Linked DNA regions of Homo sapiens. The protein of the gene in region 2 interacts with the protein of the main gene of each other region in a pairwise test. Each region holds a gene or a part of one and is shown on either strand. Other genes may lie near its edges.

What was found.
Region 1: the proteins of ZBTB8A (region 2) and KIF9 interact in binary tests that used the Homo sapiens proteins (3 or more experiments, as listed by UniProt).
Region 3: the proteins of ZBTB8A (region 2) and ZGPAT interact in binary tests that used the Homo sapiens proteins (3 or more experiments, as listed by UniProt).

What each region holds. Positions count from the first base shown.
Region 1 is NC_000003.12:47,248,059-47,251,809, forward strand, and holds part of KIF9 (kinesin-like protein KIF9), read right to left. Parts: intron 2,569-3,751; exon of another isoform or gene 2,459-2,568; intron 29-2,458; coding exon 1-28. UniProt on the Homo sapiens protein: Essential for normal male fertility and for progressive motility of spermatozoa.
Region 2 is NC_000001.11:32,591,307-32,595,057, forward strand, and holds part of ZBTB8A (zinc finger and BTB domain-containing protein 8A), read left to right. Parts: intron 1-1,624; 5' UTR 1,625-1,625; coding exon 1,626-2,448; intron 2,449-3,747; coding exon 3,748-3,751. UniProt on the Homo sapiens protein: May be involved in transcriptional regulation.
Region 3 is NC_000020.11:63,710,898-63,714,648, reverse strand, and holds part of ZGPAT (zinc finger CCCH-type with G patch domain-containing protein), read right to left. Parts: intron 1-3,751. UniProt on the Homo sapiens protein: Transcription repressor that specifically binds the 5'-GGAG[GA]A[GA]A-3' consensus sequence. Represses transcription by recruiting the chromatin multiprotein complex NuRD to target promoters.

The DNA.
Region 1 (3,751 bases), on a different chromosome or scaffold from region 2:
GTTCCTTCTCCAGGTTCTTGACCATTCTCTGCCGGGAAACATGGTAGGGTGGGGGCCGACAGGAAGGATCATCAGAGAAGCTACCCTGTCTCTTCCACAGCAAAAGTACAATTCCTCATTCTGTGCCCAGACATCCTGGCCATTCCTGGATCCACAGGGTATGCTTTCAGCTTCTGGTGATTCCCTCCCGACTGGTGACTCTTCCCTAACTGGGGTGAGTTTAGGGTCTGGGAGGACCTGAACAGTCCCCTGGCCTTTGCTACTGCCAGTAGAAGAGACAGCACAAGCCACACAGCCACCTCAAACCCCAACTCCCAGGGGCCCCAGGCTCCTTCCAGTCTACCAGGATAATGGCCCTTTTGGTGCAGCCTACAGACTCCAGAATGCTTTCTTTTTTTTTTGAGACAGAGTTTTGCTCTTGTCGCCCGGGCTGGAGTGCAATGGCATGGTCTCAGCTCACTGCAACCTCCGCCTCCCGGGTTCAAGTGATTCTCTTGGCTCAGCCTCCTGAGTAGCTGGGATTACAGGTGACCGCCACCACACCTGGCTAATTTTTATAATTTTAGTAGAGACAGGTTTTCACCATGTTGGCCAGGCTGGTCTCGAACTCCGGACCTCAGGTGATGCACCCACCTCAGCCTCTCACAGTGCTAGGATTACAGGCATGAGCCACCATACCCAGCACCAGAATGCTTTCTTTTTAGAGAAAGGCTCTTGCTCTGTCCTCCAGGCTGGAGTGCAGTGTCACCATCATGGCTCACTGAAGCCTCAACCTCCTGGGCTCAAGCAATCCTCTCACCTCAGCCTCCTGAGTAGGTCATGCTACAGGTACACACTGCCATGCCCAGCTAATTTTTGTAGAGACAGGGGTCCTACTATGTTGCCCATGCTGGTATCACACTCCTGGGCTCAGGCAATCCTCTCGCCTCGGCCTCCCAAAGGGCTGGGATTACAGATGTGAGCCACTGTGCCTGGCCTCCAGGATGCTTTCTATGCATGGTTATAACCTCATCCTTTCACCCTCATCCTCACCAACCACTGCATGAACATGTCACCACTCCCCAATAATAATCATGTATGTCACCTCTAATTTTTTTTTTTTTTTGAGATGGGGTCTCGCTCTGTCGCCCAGGCTGGAGTACAGTGGCGCAATCTTGGCTCACCGCAACCTCTGCCTCCCGGGTTCATGTAATTCTCCTGCCTCAGCCTCCTGAGCAGCTGGGATTATAGGCATGTGCCACCACGCCCGGCTAATTTTTGTATTTTTAGTAGAGATGGGGTTTTACCATGTTGGCCAGGCTGGTCTCGAACTCTTGACCTCAGGTGATCTGCCCGCCTCAGCCTCCCAAAGTGCAGGGATTACAAGCGTGAGTCACTGTGCCTGGCCTCACCTCTAATTTTTTGCTGCTTACAAACAATGCTGCAAGAACATTTTTGTACTCATATATTTATGTCCTCATAGATTTCTGTAGAATAACACAGTGATCTATGAGGCTTTTGAGATCTGCCCCCATTACCTCTTTTCTGCTTCTCTTCTCTGGTGCACTCCAAACACTTCCACAAATTGGTATGCTTCTGCCTCTGCATTGCTTGTCCGCTGCCCTGGAATTCTCTTCTCCTAAGTATTTCCAAGACTCATTCACTTACCTCCTGATAATCTTTGTTCAAAAGCTTCTAAATTAGGTGCACCACAATTACTCTTTAAAATTGTAATTCCAGCCAGGTGCGGTGGCTCATCCCTGCAATTCCAGTACTTAGGGAGGCCAAGGCAGGTGGATCATCTGAGGTCAGGAGTTCGAGACCACCCTTGTGAAACCTTGTCTCTACAAAAATTACAAAAATTGGCCAAGCATGGTGGCATGCGCCTGTAATCCCAACTACTAGAGAGGCTAAGGCAGGAGAATTGCTTGAACCCGGGAGACAGAGGTTGCAGTAAGCTGAGACCGCACCATTGCACTCCAGCCTGAGCAATAGAGCGAGTCACTGTCTCAAAAAAAAAAAAAATTGTAATACCTTCTCCACCCCTGCAACATGCTTTAAAAATCTCTAATTTTTTTTCATAGCACATTTTGCCTTTTAACATATTCTAGATTAGTGCTGTCCAATAGCACTTTCTGCAATTATTGAAATGTTCCATATTTGTGCTGCCCGGTATGGTAATGATGAGACAAATACAGCTACTGAACACTTGAAATGTGGCTAGGGTGCCTGAAGAAGTAATTCTAATTTTAATTAAATAGCCACATTTGAGTAGCAGTTACCGTATTAAACAGTGAAACTTTAGAACTTACCTATTTATTGTGATTATTATTATGTATCTCCCCTATTCCCATCAGACTGCAAGCTCAGAGATTTGTGTTTCTGTTCATGCAGTCAGGTATTCCAAGTGCTTTAAAAAGCACTTGGCACATAGTAAGCACTCCATAGATTTTAGGTAAGTAAATAAATGATACTTTTTTTTTCAGATCAGACGGGTAATGTGCCAATGTCGTAACAAGGTTCAAGGGTGGCACATCTCACACAAGCGTATGAACACACAATCATCACACTCATGAACTACAAAAGGATCATAAATGACACATTTTGAGGAGAAGAATCGCTAAGTCATTTTATACTCGATATACCATCTGAGTGTCTTCCCTAAAAGAGGCACAAGGAACTTCAAGCTGAGAACCCTCGCTGTGAACAATAGGACTTCCTTTAGTTGTCATAAAAGGGCCACTGGAGGGAGCCCCTGACACCTGGATCCTGGGACTGGTGACCAAAACTGTGACCAGTCCACTGCCCCACTGGCCCTCTCCCAGACCAAAGGCCTGCTGTATTCTAGCCCTCATCCAACCAGGTCACCTGGGCACTGAGGCCCAACTGCCCTCACATAGCAAGGGTCAACAGAACCCCTGGCATCCTGATGGCTCTGTGGCAATTCAGGCACAAAGCCTGGGACCCAAGGCATGTGACCAGTGTCCAGATCCTGGATCTGCCCCTCTGGAAGCCCCACAAAGGTCCCCTTCAGGTGTGGACTTCCTGTGGGGTCAACAGGAGAGGCTTGCTGGCCAGTCTCACCTGTCCACATGCCATCCTTCTCCCAGCTCTAGAAAATGTATCATGGCCCAGCTACAGAAAGTTCGACTGAGCCATCAGGGTCCTCCAGCTTGATGACTCTGTTCAGTGAGGCACAGCAGAGCCAAACTTACATGTCTGGGCCAATCAGAAGGTGATGTAGGAGGCTGGGTGCAGTGGCACATGCCTGTAATCCCAGCACTTTAGGAGGTCAAGGCGGGCAGATCACTTGAGGTCAGGAGTTCAAGACCAGCCTGGCCAACATGGTGAAACCCCATCTCTACTAAAAATAAAAAATAGCTGGGTGCGGTGGCACATGCTTGTAATCCCAGCTACTCAGCAGGCTGAGGCAGGAGAATGGCTTGAACCCGGGAGGCAGAGGTTACAGTGAGCCAAGATTGCACCACTGCACTCCAGCCTGGGCAACAGAGTGAGACCCTGTCTCAAAAACAACAACAACAAACAGGGACATTTTTTAGATAGGAAAAAAATGCCTTGGAAACAGCACAGACTCATGTAAGTTTCCTAATAGGCATTTTCATTATAAATGTAATGAGGATAATTCAGAGAATTCTGCTTAAGCTGCACATCAGGCTGTGGGGCAGCTCTTGGGGCAGGCAGTTTTCCGATTTTCATCCCACTGCAGCTTGCCAGTGTATCTTCTCTTGGCAGAGTGGAGTATACTAAGTCT
Region 2 (3,751 bases):
CTCAAGTGATCCTCCTGCTTCAGCCTCCCAAGGAGCTAGGACTACAGGTGTTCTCCATCACACCTGGCTAATTAAAATATATATATATATTTTGTAGAGACAGGGTCTTGCTATGTTGAACAGGCTGGTCTCACACTCCTGGGCTCAAGCTGTCCTCCTGCCTCTGACTCCCAAAGTGCTGGGATTATAGGCGTGAGCTACCACCCTGGGCTGGAGTCTTTGTTTAATGTCTGATAACACTTTTAGACTGAAAACAACATGAAGGCAAAAATCAAATGTGTTGGTTCAGCATATAGCAGAAGGCCTGATTTATTGAAGATGCTTGGCTGGATGCAGTGGCTCATGCCTGTAATCCTAGCATTTTGGGAGGCTGAGGCCAGAGGATCGCTTGAGCCTAGGAGTTCAAGACCAGCCTGGGCAACATAGACCTCATCTCTATATTTAAAAAATGAAAGAAGATGCTCAATAAATTTTGCTAATAAAACAAGTAATTTTCTAAAATCTAATAACGGTCTAGTTGTTTTTTTGTTTTTTGTTTGTTTGTTTGTTTGTTTTTTCAGACAGGGTCTCACTCTGTCGCCAGGCTGGAGTGCATGGCGCAACCTCGGCTCACTGCAACCTCTACCTCCCAGGATCAAGCGATTCTCCTGCCTCAGCTCCCGAGCAGCTGGGACTACAGGCACGCACCACCATGCCCAGCTAATTTTTGTATTTTTAGTAGAGACGGGGTTTCACCATGTTGGCCAGGATGGTCTCCATCTCTTGACCTTGTGATCTGCCCGCCTTGGCCTCCCAAAGTGCTGGGATTATAGGCGTGAGCCACCACGCCTGGCTGATAACAGTCTAGTATTAAGTGATATGTTGAAACCTATTATCTTCTGTGTCTTGGCGATTATATTCTCCAACAAGAAAGTGTTCTTAATGGAATAAAAGAGGCTTCTGATTATTATTTTAGTTGACTCACCTTAGAAAAGGATTGTTCATTTTGGGAGGCTGAGGCAGGAGGATTGCTTGAGCCCAGGAGTTGGAGACCAGCTCGGGTACGTGGTGAGACCTTATCTCTATTAAAAACAAAAAAACAAAAAAAAACAGGCATGGTGGTGCACACCTGTAGTCCCAGCTACTTGGGAGGCTGAGGTAGGAGGATCACTTGAAACCAGGAGTTCAAGGTTGCAGTGAGCTTTTTTTGTTTGTTTGTTTTTGGGGTGTTTGTTTTTTGAGATAGAGTCTTGCTCTGTGGCCCAGGCTGGAGTGCAGTGGTGTGATCTTGGCTCACTGCAACCTCCACCTCCCAGGTTCAAGCGATTTGTCTGCCTCAGCCTCCTGAGTAGCTGGGATTACAGGCACCCGCCACCACGCCCAGCTAATTTTTGTATTTTTGGTAGAGACAGGGTTTCGCCATGTTGTCCAGGCTGGCCTCGAACTCCTGACCTCAGGTGATCTCCCCCGCATTGGCCTCCCAAAGTGCTGGGATTACAGGAGTGAGCCACTGTGCCCAGCCACAGTGAGCTTTGATCACACCACTGCACTGCAGCCTGGGCCACAGAGCAAGATCCTGTCTCAAAACAAAATAAAATAATTGTAATGTAGGTTTTGGTAACCACATGTGTCTTTTCCTCTTCAGAATGGAGATCTCCTCTCATCAGTCTCACCTCCTGCAGCAACTGAACGAGCAGCGCAGGCAAGATGTATTTTGTGACTGCAGTATTCTAGTTGAAGGGAAGGTCTTCAAAGCACATCGAAATGTATTATTCGCTAGTAGCGGCTACTTTAAAATGCTTCTTTCTCAGAATTCAAAGGAGACGAGTCAGCCAACCACAGCTACATTTCAGGCTTTCTCCCCTGACACTTTTACAGTTATCTTGGACTTCGTATATTCTGGCAAACTGTCTCTTACTGGTCAGAATGTCATAGAAGTGATGTCGGCTGCTAGCTTCCTTCAGATGACTGATGTCATAAGTGTATGTAAGACTTTTATTAAATCTTCCTTAGACATTAGTGAGAAAGAAAAAGATCGCTATTTCAGTCTCTCAGATAAAGATGCCAATTCTAATGGTGTAGAACGTTCCTCTTTTTATAGTGGTGGCTGGCAAGAAGGAAGCAGTTCTCCACGTTCTCACCTAAGCCCAGAGCAAGGAACAGGTATAATAAGTGGAAAATCTTGGAATAAGTATAATTATCATCCAGCCTCCCAGAAGAATACTCAACAACCCTTGGCCAAGCATGAACCAAGGAAAGAGTCCATTAAAAAGACCAAACATTTGAGATTGTCACAGCCTTCTGAAGTTACTCATTATAAGTCAAGCAAACGAGAAGTACGAACATCTGATTCTTCCAGCCATGTTTCCCAGTCTGAAGAACAAGCACAGATTGATGCTGAAATGGACTCTACTCCTGTTGGCTATCAGTACGGTCAAGGATCTGATGTCACATCCAAAAGCTTTCCAGGTACCCAAAAAGAGCATAAGTCCCCTCATCCAGGTTCCAAACTGCTATATTAATCAGTCTACTGTCAAAACACCCTTAGTTTCAGGTGCTCTAAGCAGTTGAAGCAAGTGATTTTTTTCAAAAGTTCTATTTTTGTAATGAAATTTATTTAGTAAGGATAGGCGTGGTGGCTCACGCCTGTGATTCCAGCAGTTTGGGAGGCTGAGGCGGGCAGATCACCTGAGGTCAGGAGTTCGAGACCAGCCTGGCCAACATGGCAAAACCCCGTCTCCACTAAAAGTACAAAAAAATTAGCCGAGCATTGTGATGTGTGCCTGTAATCCCAGCTATTCAGGAGGCTGAGGCAGGAGAATCACTTGAACCCGGGAGGCGGAGGTTGCAGGGAGCTGAGATTACACCACTGCACTCCATCCTGGGCGATAGAGTGAGACTCTGTCTCAAAAAAACAAAAAAAGAAGAAATTCATTTCATAAAACGTGGATTTAAATTTTTTAATTCAAAATAATATTGAATAAATATAATGACAATCAAAATAATAAGAATACTAAGGGTCAAAACCCATGATTTTCCAAACCTGTATCTGTGGGTGGTTAGATTACTCTTAAATGTTTAAAGCTCTTTTCTAAATAGTTCAATCCCTGAGACACATATTTTCACTTTAAATAGTTTTTTTTTTTCCTGTGTACTTACTCAGAGGAGTATTTAGCTTATTAAGATACAAATACAGGCCGGGCACAGTGGCTCACGCCTGTAATCCCAGCACTTTGGGAGGCTGAGGCGGGCAGATCATGAGGTCAGGAGTTCAAGACCAACCTGACCAACATGGTGAAACCATGTCTCTACGAAAAATACAAAAATTAGCTGGGAGTGCTGGCGCATGTCTGTAATCCCAGCTACTCAGGAGCCTGAGGCAGAAGAATCGCTTCAGGAGAACCCAGGAGGCAGAGGTTGCAGTGAGTGGAGATTGCGCCATTGCACTCCAGCCTGGGCAACAGAGCGAAACTCTATCTCAAAAAAAAAAAAAAAAGCATAGCAGTCTGAATTTACCCAACTTTCTAAATATATCAAATACCGAAGTTAAAGTTCCATACTTAGGATTACATTGACAATCTAGTCTTAATAAAATTTCTTTCGTCTCTTACTTTTTGGGCTAACCAACTCCTTGTGAATTCTTTTTATTTCTTTTTTTTTAAGTTTATTTTTTTCTTTCCTTGTTTCCATTGGGCTTGGATTGGATTCTTTCTGTTATTAGAATTGTTATGAACTTTCCAGTGATTTAATCAAAGCGTCTCTTGACAGATGA
Region 3 (3,751 bases), on a different chromosome or scaffold from region 2:
CAACACCCTTTCATGATAAAAAACACTCAACACACTATGAATATAAGAGAATTTCCTCAACTCGATAAAGGGAATCTACAGAAAACCTACAAGTAACATCATATTCAACAGTGAAAGACTAAAAGTTTTCCACCTAATATCAGGAACAAAAAAGTTTTCCACCTAAGATCAGGAACAAGATAAAGATGTTTGTTCTAGCCACTTTTTTTTTTTTTTTTTTTAAAGACAGGGTTCTTGCTCTGTCGTCCAGGCTGGAGTGGAGTGGCATGATCTTGGCTCACTGCAACCTCCGCCCCCCAGGTTCAAGCAATTCTCATGTCTCACCCTCTCAAGTAGCTGGGACTACAGGTGCACATCACCTCACCCAGCTAATTTTTGTATTTTTAGTAGAGATGGGGTTTCGCCGTGTTGGCCAGGCTGGTCTCAAACTGCTGATCTCAAGTGATCTGCCCACTTCCACCTCCCAAAGTGCTGGGAACACAGGTGTGAGCCACCACCCCCGGCCCGCTCTAGTCACTTTTATTCAACATTGTACTTGAAGTTCTAGCTAAGGCAGTTAAGCAAGAAAAAGAAATAAATGCCATGCAAACTAGAAACAAAGACTACAATTATCTCTATTCACATATATATTAATTGTATATATTGAATATATATGATTGTATATATCGAAAATCCTAAATAGTGCATAAAAAATCCTATTAGCACTAATAAACCAATTCAGCAATCAATACAGGATTAACATAAAAAAATCCACTGTATTTCTTTTTTTTTTTTTTTGAGATGAAGTCTCACTCTTGTTCCCCAAGCTGGAGTGCAATGGCGCGATCTCAGCTCACTGCAACCTCCGCCTCCCAGGTTCAAGCAATTCTCTTGCCTCAGCCTCCTGAGTAGATGGGATTACAGGCACCTGCCACCATGCCAGACTAATTTTTGTATTTTTAATAGAGGCTGGATTTCACCATGTTGGCCAGGCTGGTCTCGAACTCCTGACCACAGGTGATCCACCCGCCTTGGCCTCCCAAAGTGCTGGGATTACAGGCGTGAGCCACGGTGCCCAGCTTGTATTTCTATATACTAGCAACAAACAGCCTGAAAATGTAACTAAGGAAAACAACTCCAGCCGGGCACAGTGGCTCACATCTGTAATCCCAGCACTTTGGGAGGCCGAGGCAGGCAGATCACCTGAGGTCAAGAGTTCGAGACCATCCTGGCTACATGGTGAAACCCCATCTCTACTAAAAATACAAAAAATTAGCTGGGCGTGGTGGCAGGCACCTGTATTCCCAGCGACTCAGGAGGCTGAGGCAGAAGAATGGTGTGAACCCGGGAGGTGGAGCTTGCAGTGAGCCAAGATTGGGCCACTTCACTCCAGCCTGGGCAACAGAGCAAGACTCCATCTCAAAAAAAAAAATTAGCTGGGTGTGGTGGCAGGCACCTGTGATCCCAGCTACTTGGGAGGCTGAGCAGAAGAATTGCTTGAACCCGGGAGGCAGAGGTTGCAGTGAGCCAAGATTGTGCCATTGCACTCCAGCCTGGGTGACAGAGCAAGACTCTGTCTCAAAAAAAAAAGGAAAAGAAAAACAATTCCTTAGAGAAGCATCAAAAATAATACTTATTTAACCAAGAATGTGCAAGACTTGAACAGTACAAAATACTGTTGAAAGAAATTAAAGACGTAAATAAATGGACAGATCCTTCATTCATGAATTGGAAGACTTAATACTGTTTTTTTCTTCTGTTATTGTTGTTGTTTAAGATGGAGTCTCCCTCTGTTACCCAGGCTGGAGTGCAGTGGCATGATCTCAGCTCACTGCAACCTCCTCCTCCCAGGTTCAAGCGATTCTCCTGCCTCACCCTCTCGTGTAGCTGGGATTACAGGTGTGCACCACCTCCGACTAATTTGTTTTTTATTTTTAGTAGAGACGGGGTTTCACCACGTTGGCCAGGCTGGTCTTGAACTCCTGACCTCAAGTGATATGCCCGCCTCAGCCTCCCAAAGTACTGGGATTACAGGCGTCAGCCACCACACCCAGCCAGAAGGCTTAATATTGTAAAGATGACAATGTGCCCCAAACAGATCTACACATTCTATGCAATCCATATCAAAATTCAAACTGTCTTTTATGCAGAATTGGACAAGCCGATCCTAAAATTCATATGAAATTGCAAAGGATCCAGAAACAAAACAAACTTGAAAAAGAGGAGCAAATGGTGAATAACTACCACTTCCTGAGTTTAAAACTTATCACAAAGCTATAATAATCAGAACAGTGTGGTACTGGCACATATACACCAATGGAACAGGAGAGAGAGCTCAGAAATAAACCCTTACATATATTGCCAATTGATTTTGGACAAAAGTGCCAAGACCATTCAGTGGAGAAAAAGCAGTCTTTTAAACAAATGGTGCTGGGAAAACTGGAAATCCACATGCAAAAGAATAAAGTGGACCCTCACCTAATAACATATACAAAAATTAACTCAAAATGGATCAAAGACCTAAATTTAACAGCTAAAACTACAGAACTCTTAGAAGAAAACATAGGTGAAAATCCTCATAACTATGGATGAGGTGGTTTCTTAAACCTGATGACAAAAACATAGGCAATAAAGAAACAATAAATTGCACTGCATCAAAATTTAAAATGTTTGTGCATCAAAGGACACTATATCAAGTGAAAAGACAACCCAAACAATGGGAGCAAATATCTGCAAACTATATACTTCATAAGGGATGATATCCAGAATATATAAAGAAATCCTGGGCCGGGTGTGGTGGCTCATGCCTGTAATCCCAGCACTTTGGGAAACCAAGGCGGGATCACCTGAGGTCAAGAGTTCGAGACCAGCCTGGCCAACATGGTGAAACCCTGCCTCTACTAAAAATATAAAAATTAGCTGGGCACCACGTGGTGACAGGCGCCTGTAATCCCAGCTACTTGGGAGGCTGAGGCAGGAGAATCCCTTGAACCCAGGAGGTGGAGGTCATGCCATTGTACTCTAGCCTGGGCAACAACAGTGAAACTCCATCTTAAAAAAAAAAAAAAGGTCCAACGCAAATCCAAGAGAACTTATCAGTCCTGAATGGTGGCAAGGTGGACGTCTGTAAGATGCTCCGGAAGCTTTCAGATCAGGCCTGATGCCGACATGGCAAGCAGCACTGGGTGGAGCAGGGGACGGAACGAGGGCTGGGGGCAACCGGAGCCCTCTGAGCCTTGAAGCCCTGGACCACTCAGTTCTTCTACTCCTGTTTCCTCCTCTGTCAGATGGTGTGACTGCAGGGCCTACCTACAGGGCTGTTGCACAGATGAATGAAAGTATATGAAACCCTTGGAGCAGTGCCTGGCCCAGAGGGAGCACCACAGGGATGTGTCAGATCTCTCATCAAAGGGATCAGGAATTCGAGACCTGGGTAATATGGTGAAATCCCGTCTCTACAAAAAATACAAAAATTAGCTGGGCGTGGCAGTGCACACTTGTAGTATCAGCTATTAGGGAGGCTGAGGTGGGAGGATGGCTTGGGCCAGGGAGGCGGAGATTGCAGTGAGCCGAGATTGTGCCACTGCACTCCAGCCTGGGTGACAGAGCAGCAAGACGCTGTTTCAAAAAAAAAAAAAAAAGGAAGACATTCAAAGAACTAGAACTAGAACTAGGGATGGTTACACGGTCAGCCTGAACTATTGGCTAAAAAAGAAAATTACCTACTAGAAGGCTTGGTAAATATTTCTTCTAAGAGAAAAGTAAAAAGGAG